Linked DNA regions of Homo sapiens: region 2 is linked to region 1. A link means that fine-mapping ties the variant in region 1 to the expression of a gene that starts in the linked region. Tissue or cell type: whole blood. Region 1 holds a variant in brackets; the other region holds the start of a gene. All regions are shown on one strand. Distances are from middle to middle.

Region 1 (8,198 bases):
GTAGCCTTCACTGTGCAGGCTCAAGCCACCCTACCACGTCAGCCTCATGAGTAGCTGGGACCACAGGCACGCACCACCTTGCGTGGCTAGTTTTTTAATTTTTTTGTAGAGGCAGGGTCTTGCTATGTTGCCCAAGCTGGTCTCAAATTCCTGGGCTCAAGAGATCCTCCTGCCTTGGCCTCTGAAAGTGCTGGGATTACAGGTATGAGCCACTGTGCCCAGTGGAAAAGCAAATTCTTTTATTTTGTTTAGCTTGTTAAAAATTGAGATGAAATTCATATGACATCAAGTTAACCATTTTAAAGTAAATAATTTGGCCAGGCATGGTGGCTCACATCTGTAATCCCAGTACTTTGGGAGGCCAAGGTGGGCAGATCACCTGAGATCAGGAGTTCAAGACCAGCCTGGCCAACATGGTGAAACCCCATCTCTACTAAAAATAAAAAAAAATTAGCCAGGTGTGGTGGTGGCCACCTGTAATCCCAGCTACTCGGGAAGCTGAGGCAGGAGAATCATTTGAACCTGGGAGGTGGAGGTTGCAGTGAGCCAAGATTGCACCACTGCACTCCACCCTGGGCAACAGAGCAAGACTACATTTCAAAAATAAATAAAGTGAATAATTCAGCCTGGGCGTGGTGCTCATATCTGTAATCCCAGCACTTTGGGAAGCCGAGGCAGGCGGGTCACCTGAGGTCAGGAGTTATAACAGACCAGCCTGGCCAACATGGCAAAAGCCTGCCTACTAAAAATAAAAAAAAAAAAAAAAACTAGCTGGGCGTGGTAGTGAGCACCTGTAATCCCAGCTACTCGGGAGGCTGAGGCAGGAGAATCACTTGAACCCAGGAGGTGGAGGTTGCAGTGAGGAGAGATTGCACCACTGCAATCCAGCCTGGGCAACAGAGTGAGACTCCATCAGAATAAATAAAAATTTTAAAAATAAAGTGAATAATTCAGTAATATTAGTACATTCACCATGATGTACAACCACCACCTCTACCTTGTTTCAAAACTTCTTCATCACCGTAAAAGGAAACCCCGTGTCCACTAAGCAATTACTCCCTATTCCTCCACTCTCCTCAGCCCCTGGAAACCACCAGTGTGCTTTGTGTCTCTATGGATTCATTTATACCGGGCGTTTCATACAAATAGACTCAGCCAGGCATGGTGAATCCTGCCTGTAAGCCTAGCACTTTGGGAAGCAGAGGCTGGAGGATCATTTGAGGGCAGAAGTTTGAGACTAGACTGGGCAACAGAGCAAGACCCTGTCCCTGCAAAAACAAGGGGGGGATGTGATACAGTATGTGACCTTTCGTTTCTGGCTTATTTGACTTAGTAAAATGTTACCCAGATTCATTCATGTTGTAACATGTATCAGTACTTCATTTCTTATGGTTGAATAATATTCTGTTGTGTATATATACCACAATGTTTTAATCCATTCATCAGTTGATGGAAATTTGGGATATATCTGTCTTTTGACTCTTGTTTATAGCACTGCTATGAACATTCATGTACAAGTATTTGTTCTAGTATATGTTTTCAGTTCTTTTGAGTATATACTTAGGAGTAGAATGCTAATTCCTTTTTTTTCTTTTTTTTTTTTTTTTTTGGGAAACAGAGTCTCGGCCGGGCATTGTGGCTCACACCTGTAATCCCAGCACTTTGGGAGGCCAAGGTGGGTGAATCATGTGAGGTCAGGAGTTCGAGACCAGCCTGGCCAACATGGTGAAACCTCGCCTCTACTAAAAATACAAAAATTAGCCAGGCGTGGTTGTGCGTGCCTATAATCTCAGCTACTGGGGAGGCTGAGGCAGGAGAATTGCTTAAAACCCGGAAGCAGAGGCTGCAGTGAACCAAGATTGTGCCACTGCATTCCAGCCTGGATGACAGAACAAGATTCCATCTCAAAAAAAAAAAAAAAAAAAAAAGAAACAGAATCTTGCTCTGTTGCCCAGGCTGGAGCACAGTGGAGTAATCTCAGCTCACTGCAACCTCTGCCTCCCAGGTTCAAGTGATTCTCCTGCCTCAGCCTCCCAAGTAGCTGGGAATACAGGCATGTGCCACTGTGCCTGGCTAATTTTTATATTTTTAGTAGAGATGGTGTTTCACCATGGTGGCCAGGCTGGTCTTGAACCCCTGACCTCAAGTGATCCATCTGCCTCAGCCTCCCAAGTTCTGGGATTACAGGCGTGAGCCACTGTGCGCGGCCAGGAACTACCTTTTTGTATTCTAAGAGTTAGCTCCAAACTAGTCAATGCTGAAGGCCTTGACATTACAATTCTCATTTGTTTCTAAAATACATAAAGACGCTAAAACAATTGGCTTGATGGAAAAAAAAAGTTCAACTCAAGATAAACACTGCATGATCTCATTATGTGTGGTATCCAAAGAAGTCTAACTCATAGAAACGAGAGTAGGTTGGTTGACAAGAGCCATAGGGAGGGAGAAACAGGAGAATTTTGGTCAAAGGAAAGTTTCAATTATAAGATAAATAAATTCTGGAGATCAAAAATATAGCATATGGTAACCGTAACTAATAATAATGTAGGCCGGGCGCGGTGGCTCACGTCTGTAATCCCAGCACTTTGGATGGCCAAGGCGGGTGGATCACGAGGTCAGGAGATCAAGACCATCCTGGCTAACATGGTGAAACCCCATTTCTACTAAAAATACAAAAAATTAACCAGGCATGGTGGCGGGCGCCTGTAGTCCCATCTACTCGGGAGGCTGAGGCGGGAGAATGGCGTGAACCAGGGAGGTGGAGCTTGCAGTGAGCCAAGATTGTGCCACTGCACTCCAGCCTGGGCGACAAAGCAAGACTCCGTCTCAAAAAAATAATAATAAATAATAATAACAATGTATTGTATACTTGACATTTTCTAACACAGTAGAACTTAGTGTTCTTGCCACCAAAAAACGGTAATTACATGAGGTGGTGGATATGTTAATTAGCCTTTCGGTGGTGATCTTTTTTTGACAACGAGTTTCGCTCTTGTTCTTGTTGCCCAGGCTGGAGTGCAGTGGTGCCATCTGGGCTCACTGCAACCTCCACCTCCCGGGTTCAAGCGATTCTCCTGCTTCAGCCTCCCAAGTAGCTGGGATTACAGGCATGGGCCACCACGCCTGGCTGAATTTGTATTTTCAGTAGAGAC[G/A]GGGTTTCTCCATGTTGGTCAGGCTGGTCTCGAATTCCCAACCTCAGGTGATCCGCCCGCATCGGCCTCCCAAAGTGCTGGGATTACAGGCATAAGCCACCACGCCTGGCTGTGGTGATCATTTTACAGTGTATAAATATATCAAAACATATTGTACACCGTGAATATATACAGTTTTTATTTGTCAATTACACCTCAATAAAGATGGGAGGGAAAGAAAAAGAAAAATGTTTAACTCTACCAAAAATAAAAGAAATGCAAATCAAAATAAGAAAAATGCCATTATTTAGACTCAGAAAGCCAGGCATGGTGGTTCATACCTGTAATCCCAACACTTTGGGAGGCTGAGGCAGGAGGGTTGCTTGAGGTCAGGAGTTCAAGACCAGCCTGGGAAACATAGCAAAACTCTACCTCTACAAAAAAAAATTTTTGGCCGGGCGTGGTGGCTCATGCCTGTAATCCCAACATGCTGTGAGGCTGAGGCAGGTGGGTCACTTGACGTCAGGAGTTAGAGACCAGCCTGGCCAACATGGTGAAACCCCATTTCTACTAAAATACAAAAATTAGCCGGGCATGGTGGCAGGCACCTGTAATCTCAGCTACTGGGGAGGCTGAGGCGTGAGAATCACTTGAACCGAGGAGGTGGAGGTTGCAGTGAGCAGAGATCGCACCACTGCACTCAAGCCTGGGTGAAAGAGTGATACTCTGTCTCAAAAAAAATTTTTTTTTTTTAATTAGCCAGATGTGGTGGCACGTACCTATAGTCCCAGCTACTCAGGAGGCTGAGGTGGGAGGATTGCTTGAAACCAGGAGTTTGAGGCTGCAGTGAGCTGTAATTGTGCCACTGCACTGCAGCCTGGGTGACAGAGTAAGATTCTATTTCTTTTTTTTTGGGGGGGTGGGGACGGAGTCTCGCTTTGTCTCCCAGGCTGGAGTGCAGTGGCACTGTCTCTGCTCATTGCAACCTCCACCTCCTGGGTTCAAGCAATTCTTTTGCCTCAGCCTCCAGAATATTAGAGGGATTAGGGTTGGGATTACAGTTGCCTGCCACCATGCCCGGCTAATTTTTGTATTTTTAGTAGAGATGGGGTTTCACCATGTTGGCTATATGCTGGTCTTGAATTCCTGACCTCAGGTGATCTGCCTACCTCGGCCTTTCAAAGTGCTGGGATTATAGACATGAGCCACCATGCCCAGCTTGATCCTATTTCAAATAAATAAATAAAATAGACACAGTATTGGCCAAGATTTGAGTAAATTAATAAGCGCTGATCAGAGTGCAGAGAATTGGGCTGTTTCTATACAAAACCAATAGAAATGCAAATTGATACACCCATTCTCTGGAAAAATTTGAATGTAGCCTGGACAACATAGCAAGACCCCCATGTCTTTAAAATAATGAGAACATCTGTGTTCTAACGCATAGTGCTTAGCTTTTTTTTTTTTCTTTTTTTTGAGAAGGAGTCGAGCTCTGTTGCCCAGGCTGGAGTGCAGTGGCACAATCTCGGCTCACTGCAACCTCTGCCTCCTAGGCTCAAACAATCCTCCTGCCTCAGCCTCCCGAGTAGCTGGGACTACAGCTGTGTGCCATGCCCGGCCTCTGGCCAGCATACTTTTTAAAAATTGGAAGACTCGGATGGGCACGGTGGCTCACGCCTGTAATCCCAGCACTTTGGGAGGCCAAGGTGGGCGGATCACGAGGTCAGAAGATGGAGACCATCCTGGCTAACACGGTGAAACCCCGTCTCTACTGAAAATACAAAAAATTAGCTGGGCATGGAGGCGTGCGCCTGTAGTCCCAGCTGCTGGGGAGACTGAGGCAGGAGAATGGCGTGAACCGGGGAGGTGGAGCTTGCAGTGAACTGAGATGCCGCCACTGCACTCCAGCCTGGGCGACAGAGCAAGACTCTTTCTCAAAAAAAAAAAAAATTAGAAGACTCAGTAAATGTTAAGTCTGGCTGTTGTAATTGTCAGATGTACATCAAAATGCTGGTACTGCTTATCTTTAAGTAGTGGAATCGTAATTTTAATATTCTTTTGTACACTTTTCTATATTTCTACAATAATGCATTTTCCTTTTGTAATCAGAAAAAAAAAAGAAAATTAAGATTTCGGTCCTCATAGCCGTCTTTATAGTCAACTTTCTAAGCAAGATAACTTTGCTTAAGGTAATTCTCACTGCTGTGGGACAGTGATTCCATATTGGATAAAGGCTTCGATATTTTTGGAAAGGCATCCCAATCTTTGCTACCCTCTCTTCTAATAAGAGTCGAGGTGAACACTATCAAACAACTGAAAAATACTTCTATCAGGTCAGCGCTCCAGGATATTTCTATTCTTAGACATAATAAGATTTGGAGAGCAGTGCTTTAGAGGCTGGGCAAGAATTTTAGAAAGCTAAGGATTACAACAGATCTGGACATTTCTCCCCCATCCCCATTAACAGTCATGAACTGAAAATTTCTATTAGGGGTCATTCATTTACAGGAAAAACAACGAAAACCAAGAAACTTGGATTATGTCATTCATCTACTAACATTTTTTATGGCACCCCTGTGCCTATTCTAGTACCTACACATTACTCAGCCAGGCATCTGAGGTCATTTTAAAGATAATTTTCAGGCAGGTGTGGTAGCTTAGGCCTGTAATCTCAGCATTTTGGGAGGCTGAGGTGGGAGAATTGCTTCAGCCCAGGAGTTCCAGACCATTTTGGGCAAGAGGGCAAAACTCCATCTCGACAAAAATTACAAAAATTAGCCAGGTGTGGTGGCGCCCACTGGTGGTTCCAGCTAATCAGGAGGCTGAGGCAGGAGGATCGCTTGAGCCCAGGGGTGGAGGCTGTAGTGAGCCGTGACTGTGCCACTGCACTCCAGCCTAGGCAACAGAGCAAGACCCTGTCTCAAACAAAAAAAAAAGTGATATTCAGAGCGACTTGAAACATGGATCTGAATCTAGGTACTGGAGTTTCCACTTTCAGCTTCGGGACTATCAGTTCACACCCAGCTATAAACATATCGAGCAAATTCCTAGAACTCTTCTATGAGTGTCATATCAATATACACACCTGCATATGTGTACTGCTGAGCCACCGCGCCTGGCCAAAAGTATTTTTTTCAAGCGTCTAATGGTGTAATAATTAGCCATTCAAATTAAAGGGGCCATTCTAAAGAATTAGCTTCAGCAGGTGGTGTGGCTCAGGCCTGTAATCCCAGCACTTCGGGAGGCCAAGGCAGGTGGATCACCTGAGGTCAAGAGTTCGAGACCAGCCAGGCCAACATGGAGAAACCCCGTCTCTACTAAAAAAACCATGAAAATTAGCCGAGTGTGGTGGTGTGCACCTGTAGTCCCAGCTACTCAGGAGGCTGAGGCAGGAGAATTGCTTGAACCTGGGAGGTGGAGGTTGCAGTGAGCTGAGATCTTGTCATTGCACTCCAGCCTGGACAACAAGAGCGAAACTCTGTCTCAAAAAAAAAAAAAAAAAAAAGTTGAAGTAGGGGAGATAAGAATTAAATAGAATTGAATCAGTTGAAACAAAAAAAAATTCAATACAAGATGAAAAGAGCTGTTTTGGAAATCTTGGCAGCAGTGCTGAAAAGAAAAGGCTATTTTATTAACCTTTTAGCAAAGACATAGTCAGATGTGTGTTCAAGAATACCATTTGAAATTATAGTCTTACAAAATTACTACAGGCAGCCAGGAATGGTGGGTCATGCTTGTAATCCCACCACTTTGGGAGGGCGAGGCAGGAGGATTGCTTGAGGCCAGGAGTCTGAGACCAGTCTGGGTAACATAGTGAGATCTTGTCTCTACAAAAAAAAAAAAAAAAAAAACGGGCCAGGCATGGTGTCTGTAGTCCCAGCTATTCAGGAGGCTGAGGGGGGAAGATCACTTGAGCCAGGAAGGTCAATGCTGCAGTAAGCCATGATCTTGCCACTGCACTCTAGCTTGGGCAATGGAGCAAGAGCCTGTCTCAAAAAGAAAAAAAAAAAGTACTGCTACAAGTATTGTGACTCTAGAAGGTGTAAGGGTTTCAGAATGAGGATGGACAAAGGTTGACATTTTTGGGAACAATTATTAGGCACATGTATCTCTTTTTTTTTTTTTTTTTTGAGATGGGGTCTCACTCTGTTGCCCAGGCTGCAGTGCAAATGGTGCAATCTCGGCTCTTCGCAACCTCTGTCTCCCGGGTTCAAGCAATTCTCTTGCCTCAGCCTCCTGAGTAGCTGGGATTACAGGCGCACGCCACCATGCCTGGCTAATTTTTGTATTTTTACTAGAAATGGGGTTTCACCATGTTGGTCAGGCTGGTCTCTAACTCCTGACCTTGTGATCCACCCACCTCGGCCTCCCAAAGTGCTGGGATAACAGGCATGAGCCCCCCGTGCCCAGCCTAGGCACATGTATATTCTTACATGATTGTAAATGAAGGTGGTGATGGATAAGAGTACTAATCTTTTTATCCTGCATAGTCTGAAATTGGAATTTTCAAGGCAACTCTTCTTATCACAACCATCTGAATGTCTCCTTCCCTGAATGTCTACTTTATTCATTTATCAGTTGATAATGTTCGTATTTCATTGCGTCTGTCTAATTTGGCTATAAATGTGCAAGAGCGTCAGCCTGTCTGCCTTGGATTGTAAACTGTTAGAGGAGAGAGGCAAGGTTTAGCTAATTCTCTGTGTGAATCATTTAGCATGGCATAGCACTACACACAATCAAGGTTTTAATAAATGTGTTGATTATGATCTTTGAAAAAAGGCTTAGTCCCATTTATCGTCTTCTCGACCTTGTCAGCACTTCTCAAGAGGGTGGGGAGAGTTGACTTAATCTACATTTTTTTTTTTTTGAGACAGAATCCCACTCTGTCATCCAGGCTGGAGTGCAGTGGTGTGATCTCGGCTCACTGCAACCTCTGCCTCCCCAGGTTCAAGCAATTCTTGTGCCTCAGCCTCCCAAGTAGTTGGGATTACAGGTATGCGCCACCATGCCCGGCTAATTTTTGTATTTTTAGTAGAGACAGGGTTTCACCATGTTGAACAGGCTGGT
Region 2 (8,151 bases), 29 kb before region 1:
GGTGGCTCATGCCTGTAATGCCAGCACTTTGGGAAGCTGAGGCAGGTGGATCCCTTGAGCCCAGGAGTTCAAGACTAGCCTGAGCAACATAGGGAGACTACATCTCTACCAAAATTTAAAAATTAGCCAGGCATGGTGGCAGGTGCCTGTAGTCCTAGCTACTTAGAAGACTGAGGTAGGAGGACAGCTTGAGCCTGGGAGGTGGAGGCTATGGTAAGCTAGGATCGCACCACGGCACTCCAGCCCAGGTGACTGAGGGAGTGAGATCCCACCACTCTAAAAAAATTAAAAAAAAAATAAATTTAAAAATAAAAAATTAAATAAAATAACTATATAGTAGTTAGCCAGGTTAAAAACCAGAAAGAATTCCAAACAGCAAAAAACAACATGAGCAGGAAGGTGAGAGTTAAGAGACCAGAATCACTGTTTCTATTTTTTTTTTTTTTTTGGAGACGGATGCCCAGGCTGGAGTGCAGTGATGTGATCTCAGCTCACTGCAACCTCCACCTCCTGGGTTCAAATGATTTCCTGCCTCAGCCTCCCGAGTAGCTGGGACTACAGGCGCACATCACAATGCCCGGCTAATTTTTTTTTGTATTTTTAGTAGAGATGGGGTTTCACTGTGTTGGCCAGGCTGGTCTCGAACTCCTGACCTCAAGTGATCCACCCACCTCAGCCTCCCAAAGTGCCGGGGTTACAGGTGTGATCCCACCCGGCCTTTTATTTACCAAAATTTTAGTATTATAACTTTAATAATGGAGGGAAATGCATTTATAGTAATAGCAGACGTGGCTAGCCCTGGGAGCCACAAGTTATAAAGACATCCCTTTTATTTAACTGGGTAGGTCTCTTGACCATGGTGTCCTCAGTTCTCCCCTCTTCCCATGCCCCTCACCCACAAATACAAGTGATAAATTTTTTAAAAAAGCCTTTATAAACTATACTAAGGAATATAAATGCAACTCTAGACACTAATTTTATTAGGTTTATCTTTTAAGATCCCATAATATAGAGGCCCAGGGACCCAGATCTGTTTCTGCCATCACTGTTACTCAACAGACAATGCTTATCCATCAAGGCACAGCTTCACACTTTCTGTAAGAAATCCTCGGGCCGGGCGCGGTGGCTCATGCCTGTAATCCCAGCACTTTGGGAGGCCGAGGCGGACAGATCACGAGGTCTGGAGATCGAGACCATCCCGGCTAACACGGTGAAACCCCGTCTCTACTAAAAATACAAAAAATTAGCCGGGCGTGGTGGCGGGAGCCTATAGTCCCAGCTACTCCGGAGGCTGAGGCAGGAGAATGGCGTGAACCCGGGAGGCGGAGCCTGCAGTGAGCCGTGATCGTGCCACTGCACTCTGGCCTGAGCGACGGAGCGAGACTCCGTCTCAAAAAAAAAAAAAAAATCCTCTCCATGAGTGCACTCATCCACCTCTATCGCATTTCATTCATTTTACAAAAAACTACTCAGGCATTCTAGGAGGCTTTGGGGATGTACCAGTAAACAAAAACAGGACTAAGTACTGAGCTGGTGGAGGTTACCGTCTAATGGGAGAGAAGGCCATCACTCACGTAACCATGAATATAAATGGAAAAACCACAACTGATATAGGGGAAGGTATATGCCATATGTGAACACACTAAAATGAAAATTCTAGTAATATTGAGCATTTACTACATGCTAGTAACAGTTTCTACTATTGTTCCCATTTTACAGAGAGAAAACTGAGACCCAAATGAATTAAGGAACTTAATTATCTGAGCTAAACCTGTGTCTGCAAAATGAAATAACACATGACGGCCGGGCGCAGTGGCTCACTCCTGTAATCCCAATACTCTGGGAGACCAGACGGGAGGATTGCTTGAGTCCAGGAGTTCCCGGCCAGCCTGGGTAACATGGCAAAATCCCGTCTCTACAAAAAATGCAAAAAAATTAGCTGGGCGTAGTGACCCGCGCCTGTACTCCCAGCTACTTGGGAGGCTGAGGTGGGAGGATCACCTGAGCCTGAGAGGTCGAGGCTGCAGTGAGCCGCGATCACACTACTGCACTCCAGCCTGGGCGACAAAGCGAGACCCTGTCTCAAAAAAATAATAATAATTTAAAACAAATTTTAAGTAAAGTGCTTAGCACACAGTTAAGTATTCAATCAGTGCTCGTCCTTGGCTTTATGCCTTTTTTTTTTTTGAAACGGAGTCTTGCACTGTCGCCCAAGCTGGAGTGCAGTGGCGCGATCTCGGCTCACTGCAACCTCCGCTTCCCAGGTTCTAGCGATTCTCCTGCCTCAGCCTCCCGAGTAGCTGAAATTACAGGTGCCCGCCACCACGTCCAGCTAATTTTTTGTGTTTTTAGTAGAGACGGGGTTTCACTACGTTGGTCAGGCTGGTCTCGAACTCCTGACCTCGTGATCCACCCGCCTTACCCTCCCAAAGTGCGGAGATTATAGGCGTGAGCCACTGCGCCCGGCCCGGTTTTATGGCATTTTTACTGTTTATTACGGTCCTCTAGGATAGGGAGCCTGTATGACTTATCCCTGTGTCTCCAACGCTCTATTGTATAGCCCCATTTTAAAGAAGATACAGGATCTGAGACTCTAACTCTCAGCTAATAAATACTGGAGCCAGACATGAACTTGCAAAAAAAAAAAATGCATGTAAAGCGCCTGGCCCACCGTAAACGCTCAGTACGTGTTAGCTACCGGTAGTAGCTATCTTTATTTCTTCACGTTCCTCCAGGCAGGGAGAGTATCTGATGGACACGAGTGTCCCCAAGCCCAGGGTTCCGCACAGAGCAGATGCTCAGTAAAAGTTTGCTGCACGAGCAGGAGCCAGCGGGCGCCTCTCACCTGCAGCAGGGGCAGGAGCAGCTGGTTGAGCCTCCGCCGCTCCATGAGGCTGACGGCGCCCTCGCCTGTGCGGCTCATCTCGTTCAGCAGCACCAGCACCGCGATCTTGTACGGCGTCACCCAGTCCTTGATGCCGAACACATTGGCGTGCACAACCCCATTGGTCATCATGGGATTGAAGTAGAGGCTCTCGTGGACGCTGGCCATGGCGGCCCGAGACTAAGTCTCGGGCCCGCGGCGCGCTGCCGCCAGTTGTCACCACAAGGCACAACACTACCGGGTCTACATCTCCGCCCGCCCTCACAATATCCCAGGAAACAGACATCCGCGTGCTCGCGGCATTTGTTAACCAATCAGAGCAGTCTGTCAGAGCACATGGGAGAGCGACAGCCAGTCAGAATGTACAAGAGTGCGGGGAGGGGTGCACCAAAAGACTGACTCCCTACAGAAACTTTTGCCGAGTGGGAGCAGGTTCCCAGGCTACGTGGACAGGGACCGGATGGGAGGGGAAGTCGATGCTTGGGGTCGGGGCTGAAGGGACTGAGGAGCTCCCAAAGTGGTTTTTTTGTTGTTGGTTGTTGTTGTTGGTGGTGGTGGTGGTGGTTGTCGTTGTTGTTGTTTGAGACGATATCTCGCTATGTTACCAAGACTGGAGGGCAGTGGTTATTCGTAGACGCCCTCAAAGAGCACTGCACCCTCCCAAATCCTGGGCTCGAGCGATCCTCCCGCCTTCCCGAGAAGCTGGGACTACAGGCAGCGCGCCTGGCTTGTTCATGTAATTTGAAAATAGTTCAAATAGAATGTTTAAATGATTGTGTTTAAAAGTACCGAAATTAAATTTGCACCCTTAAAGTATGTATTTATTATGTTACTTTTAAACTCAAATGTTTAGGAGTTTAACTCTGTCTTTTTAAAGATAGGAACATGAGATTTTTCTTCAGCGTTTCACAAATGCCATTTGCAGACAGCCAGATCAGGTTGCCAGTGGTCGTGTATCCTTACGTGAAATAGAACATTAGCAACATCACCTCCATGTGCTGAGTCAGTTTCCTACCTAATAAACTACAAAATCTATACTCTGCATTTCAAAGCCCTCCAAAAGCAATCCCCAGCCAACATTTTGAACCTGATTTTTCACAATTCCCCTTCCGTTCATCTGTACCTCTCCCAAGACACTTAGTTCTCTATACCCTGAATTATTATTAATGATCTGGTATCCCTATTAGTCTTTATGTCCCTTGAAAGAAAAACCACATACCATTCAACTTTGGCTATCCACATGCACACACTGTGCCTTGTGCCTTTTGTTTTGTTTTGTTTTGTTTTGAGACGGAGTCTCCTCTGTCGCCCAGGCTGGAGTGCAGTGGCGCGATCTCTGCTCACTGCAAGCTCTACCTCCCTGGTTCACGCCATTCTCCTGCTTCAGCCTACCGAGTAGCTGGGACTACAGGCATCGGCCACCACGCCCGGCTAATTTTTTGTATTTTTAGTAGAGACGGGGTGTCACCGTGTTAGCCAGGATGGTCTCAATCTCCTGACCTCGTGATCCTCCCGCCTCGGCCTCCCAAAGTGCTGGGATTACAGGCGTGAGCCACCGCGCCCGGCCTGCCTTGTGCCCATTTTTATGTTTGTTTAAATTATACTTTCTCTCTCTCTCATTCTGCTACCGAGGCTGGACTGCAGTGGCACGCTCACGGCTCACTGCAACCTCAGCCTCCAGTTAAAGTAGGTAATTAGACATGAGCAGGGCAGGAGACCCCCTCGCCCTCAGGAATGCCAGGCTCAAGCAATCCTCCCACCTCAGCCTCACGAGTAGTTGAGACTACAGGCTTGTGCCACCATGCATGGCTAATTTTTTTTTTTTTTTTTTCCCGATACGGAGTCTTGCTCTGTCGCCCAGTCTGGAGTACAGTCGCTCGATTTCGGCTCACTACAATCTCTACCTCCCGGGTTCAAGCAATTCTCCTGCCTCAGCCTCCCGAGTAGCTGGAACTACAGGCACGCACCACCACGCCCGGCTAATTTTTGTATTGTTTGTAGAGATGGGGTTTCACCATGTTGGCCCGGCTGGTCTTGAACTGGTTGAACTCCTGACCTCAGGTGACCCGCCCATCTCCGCCTCCAAAAGTGCTGGGATTACAGGCCTGAGCCACTGTGCCTGGATGCATGGCTAATTTTTTTATTTTTTGTAGACACGAGGTCTTGCGATGTTGTCCAGGCTGGTCTCGAACTCCTGGACTCAAGTGATCCTCCTGCCTCAGCCTCCCAAATTGCTACGATTAAAGGCATGGGCCACTGCATGCAGCCTCATGCCTGGTTTTTGTTTTCTCAATCGCTATTTGTTTAATGAATAATGAATGAATATGCATTATTAGTTCACAAAAACAAAAAAGAAGGCAGATATGTATAAGCTAAATGATGCTATCAAAAAAGAAGACATTGATATCTTGTAATACAAGCTTTCCTATCTTGAGAACTCTGTATGTTTTAGTTACCATACATAATTATTATATAACTATCTTTTATTTGTGAAAGGAGAAGCTGGCTTTTGCCAGGAATTTAATACTCACTTAACCTCTTTCTTTGCCTCGGTTTATTTTTATGCCTCACTCTATTAATGAAAAAGCATACTTACAATCTCCCAGCTCTTTAGGATATTTTTGCATATGTGTATACCATAAATAAGGTTTGACAAAGGGTCTGTGTGGAATAAACTAGTATTCAACCTTAAAATCCTGAGTAGGAACACTTAATGAATGGAAAGAGGAAAGTAATTTTACAAAATCCTAAATAACAATTTTACTGTAAATTGGTAAGACTTTCAAGCCATTGATTCATTTATTCAGTAACACTGTGCTAAGCTCCTGCTATATTTAAGGCACTGTTCTAGGTGCTGGGGACCAAAAGGGATGAATTTCTAAGCCAGAAGTTGCAAACTGAAGTTGCAATCTAAACTAAATGCGGCTCATTAGATATATTTTATTTGCTTTGCATGGTGTTTGCCAACACTTAAAAATTAGGATATTTCTGCCAACAAAGAACTACATTTCCAGCTTCACTTGAAAAATTTGAAAATTTGGTAACATGATTTATTCCTAGATGGTAACAACTGACTGGATATGCACAGCATAAGCTGCCTTTGGCCAGGTGCAATGGCTCATGCCTGTAATCCCAACATTTTGGGAGGCCAAGGCAGGCAGATCACTTGAGGTCAGGAGCTCGAGACCAGCCTGGGCAACATGGTGAAACCCTGTCTCTATTAAAAATATAAAAATTAGCCAGGCATGGTGGGGGGTGCCTGTAATCCCAGCTACTCGGGGGGCTGAGGCAGGAGGATCGGTTGAACCCAGGAGGCAGAGGTTGTAGTGAGCCGAGGTCATGCCACTGCACTCCAGCCTGGGCAACAGAGCAAAAACTCCATCTCAAAAATAAATAAATAAATAGGCTGGAGGTGGCGGCTCATGCCTATAATCCCAGCACCTTGGGAGGCAGAGGTGGGTGGATCACTTTGAGGCCAGGAGTTTGACACATGCCTGGCCAACATGGTGAAACCCTGTCTCTACTAAAAATACAAAAATTAGCCAGGTGTGCTGGGATGCACCTGTAATCCCAGCTACTTGGGAGGCTGAGGCCGGAGGATACCTTGAGCCCAGGAGTTCAAGGCTGCAGTGACCTATGATTACCACTGCACTCTAGCCTGGACGACAGAGTGAGACTCTGTCTCATAAATAAATAAATAAGCCACCTTTATTTAGGGCATGCCGTTTCCAACTCACTACAATCCTCATCAATCGTTATTGGGTTTTTTGTTTTGTTCTGTTTTGTTTTTTGGAGCCAGGGTCTCACTCTGTGGCCCAGGCTGGAGTGCGGTGGCATGATCACAGCTTACTGTAGCCTCCACCTCCTGTGCTCAAGCGATCCTCCCACCTCAGCCTCCCGAATAGCTGGGACCACAGGAATGCACCACCACATGTGGCTAATTTTTAATTTTTTTGTAGAGATAGAGTCTCACTGTGTTGCTCAGGCTGGTCTGTAAGTCCTGGGCTCACAAAATCCTCCCACCTCAGTCTCCCAAGATGCTGGGATTACAGGTGTCAGCCATCACACCCGGCCTAGACTTTTCTATATGTATATATCTGATTTTAAGAATGTTGCTAGGCCAGGCGCCATGGTTCACGCCTGTAATCACAGCACTTTGGGAGGCTGAGTCAGGTGGATCACCTGAGGTCAGGAGTTCAAGACCATCCTGACCAACATGGTGAAACCTTTTCTACTAAAAATAAAAAATTAGCCGGCCATGGTGGCGCATGCCTGTAATCCCAGCTATTTGGGAGGCTGAGGCAGGAGAATCGTTTGAACCCAGTAGGCAGAGGATACAGTGAACCAAGATCATTCCATTGCACTCCAGCCTAGGCAACAAGAGTGAAACTCCTTCTCAAAAAAAAAAAAAAAAAAAGAACATGGCTAAATATCAAAACCCTGAAAACATTTGAACTCTTTTGGACTTACTCCATCATCTTAGAGATCATGTGACCATTTTTGTAGCACTTTGTTCAAGCTTCATTTATTATGTGTATGATTTTATATCAATGACTTACTTAAGTAACTGCCTCCTCTGGTGGGCTGTCATAGGCAGGGAGCAGGTTTGCTTTTTTAAAAAAATCTTTGCATCCTTAGTTTCTGACACATTTAGTATATGCTCAGTTATTGTCAATATGCCTTTGAGTCAACTGTGCTGCAAATCCTTACATTCACTCAACAAATATTTTTGAGTACGTACTATATGCCAGACATTGTGCTAAGTCCATGCGAGTACAGCAGTGAATATACAAACTAGGTGTTTGACCTCGTGGAGGAAAACAATTGTCATAAGAAACTACCCAAGGCTGGGCACAGTGGCTTATGCCTGTAGTCCCAGCACTTGGGAGGCCGAGGGTGGGAGGATTGCTTGAGCCCAGGAGTTTAAGACCAGCCTGGACAACATGATAAGACCCTGTGTCTACAAGAAATTAAAAAAATAAATAAATAGCCAGGCATGGTGGTGTGTGCTTGTATTCCCAGTTACTAGGAGGCTGAGGTGGGAGAATCACTTGAGTCCAGGAGGTCAAGGCTGCAGTGAGCTGTGAGCATGCCACTATACTCCAGCCTGGGTGACAGTGAGACATTGTATCAAAATGAAAGAAAGGGAGAGAGAGAGAGAAAGAGAGAGAAGGAGGGAAGGAAGGGAGGGAAGGAAGGAGGGAAAAGAAAGAAAGAAAGAAAGAAAGAGAGAGAAAGAGAGAAGAAAGAGAAAAAAAGAGAAAGAG

What was found. PIP is the estimated chance that this variant, and not a neighbour inherited with it, causes the effect.
Region 2: ANAPC5 starts here. The variant in region 1 is fine-mapped to the expression of ANAPC5 in whole blood (TOPMed, PIP 0.99).

Annotation. Positions count from the first base shown.
Region 1 is chr12:121,377,774-121,385,971 of GRCh38, forward strand. The region is part of intron 1 of LOC124903037 (a long non-coding RNA gene); the gene reads left to right. Among named protein-coding and RNA genes, the nearest start is that of RNF34, 18 kb to the right of the region's middle. The variant G/A (reference allele first, on the strand shown) is at 3,153.
Region 2 is chr12:121,349,289-121,357,439 of GRCh38, forward strand. ANAPC5 (anaphase promoting complex subunit 5) reads right to left here and starts at 3,123. Exons shown (of 17, transcript NM_016237.5): 1 at 2,846-3,123. The coding sequence starts at 3,052. RefSeq lists enhancers at 2,198-2,873, 2,866-3,125, 3,550-4,225, 4,226-4,899.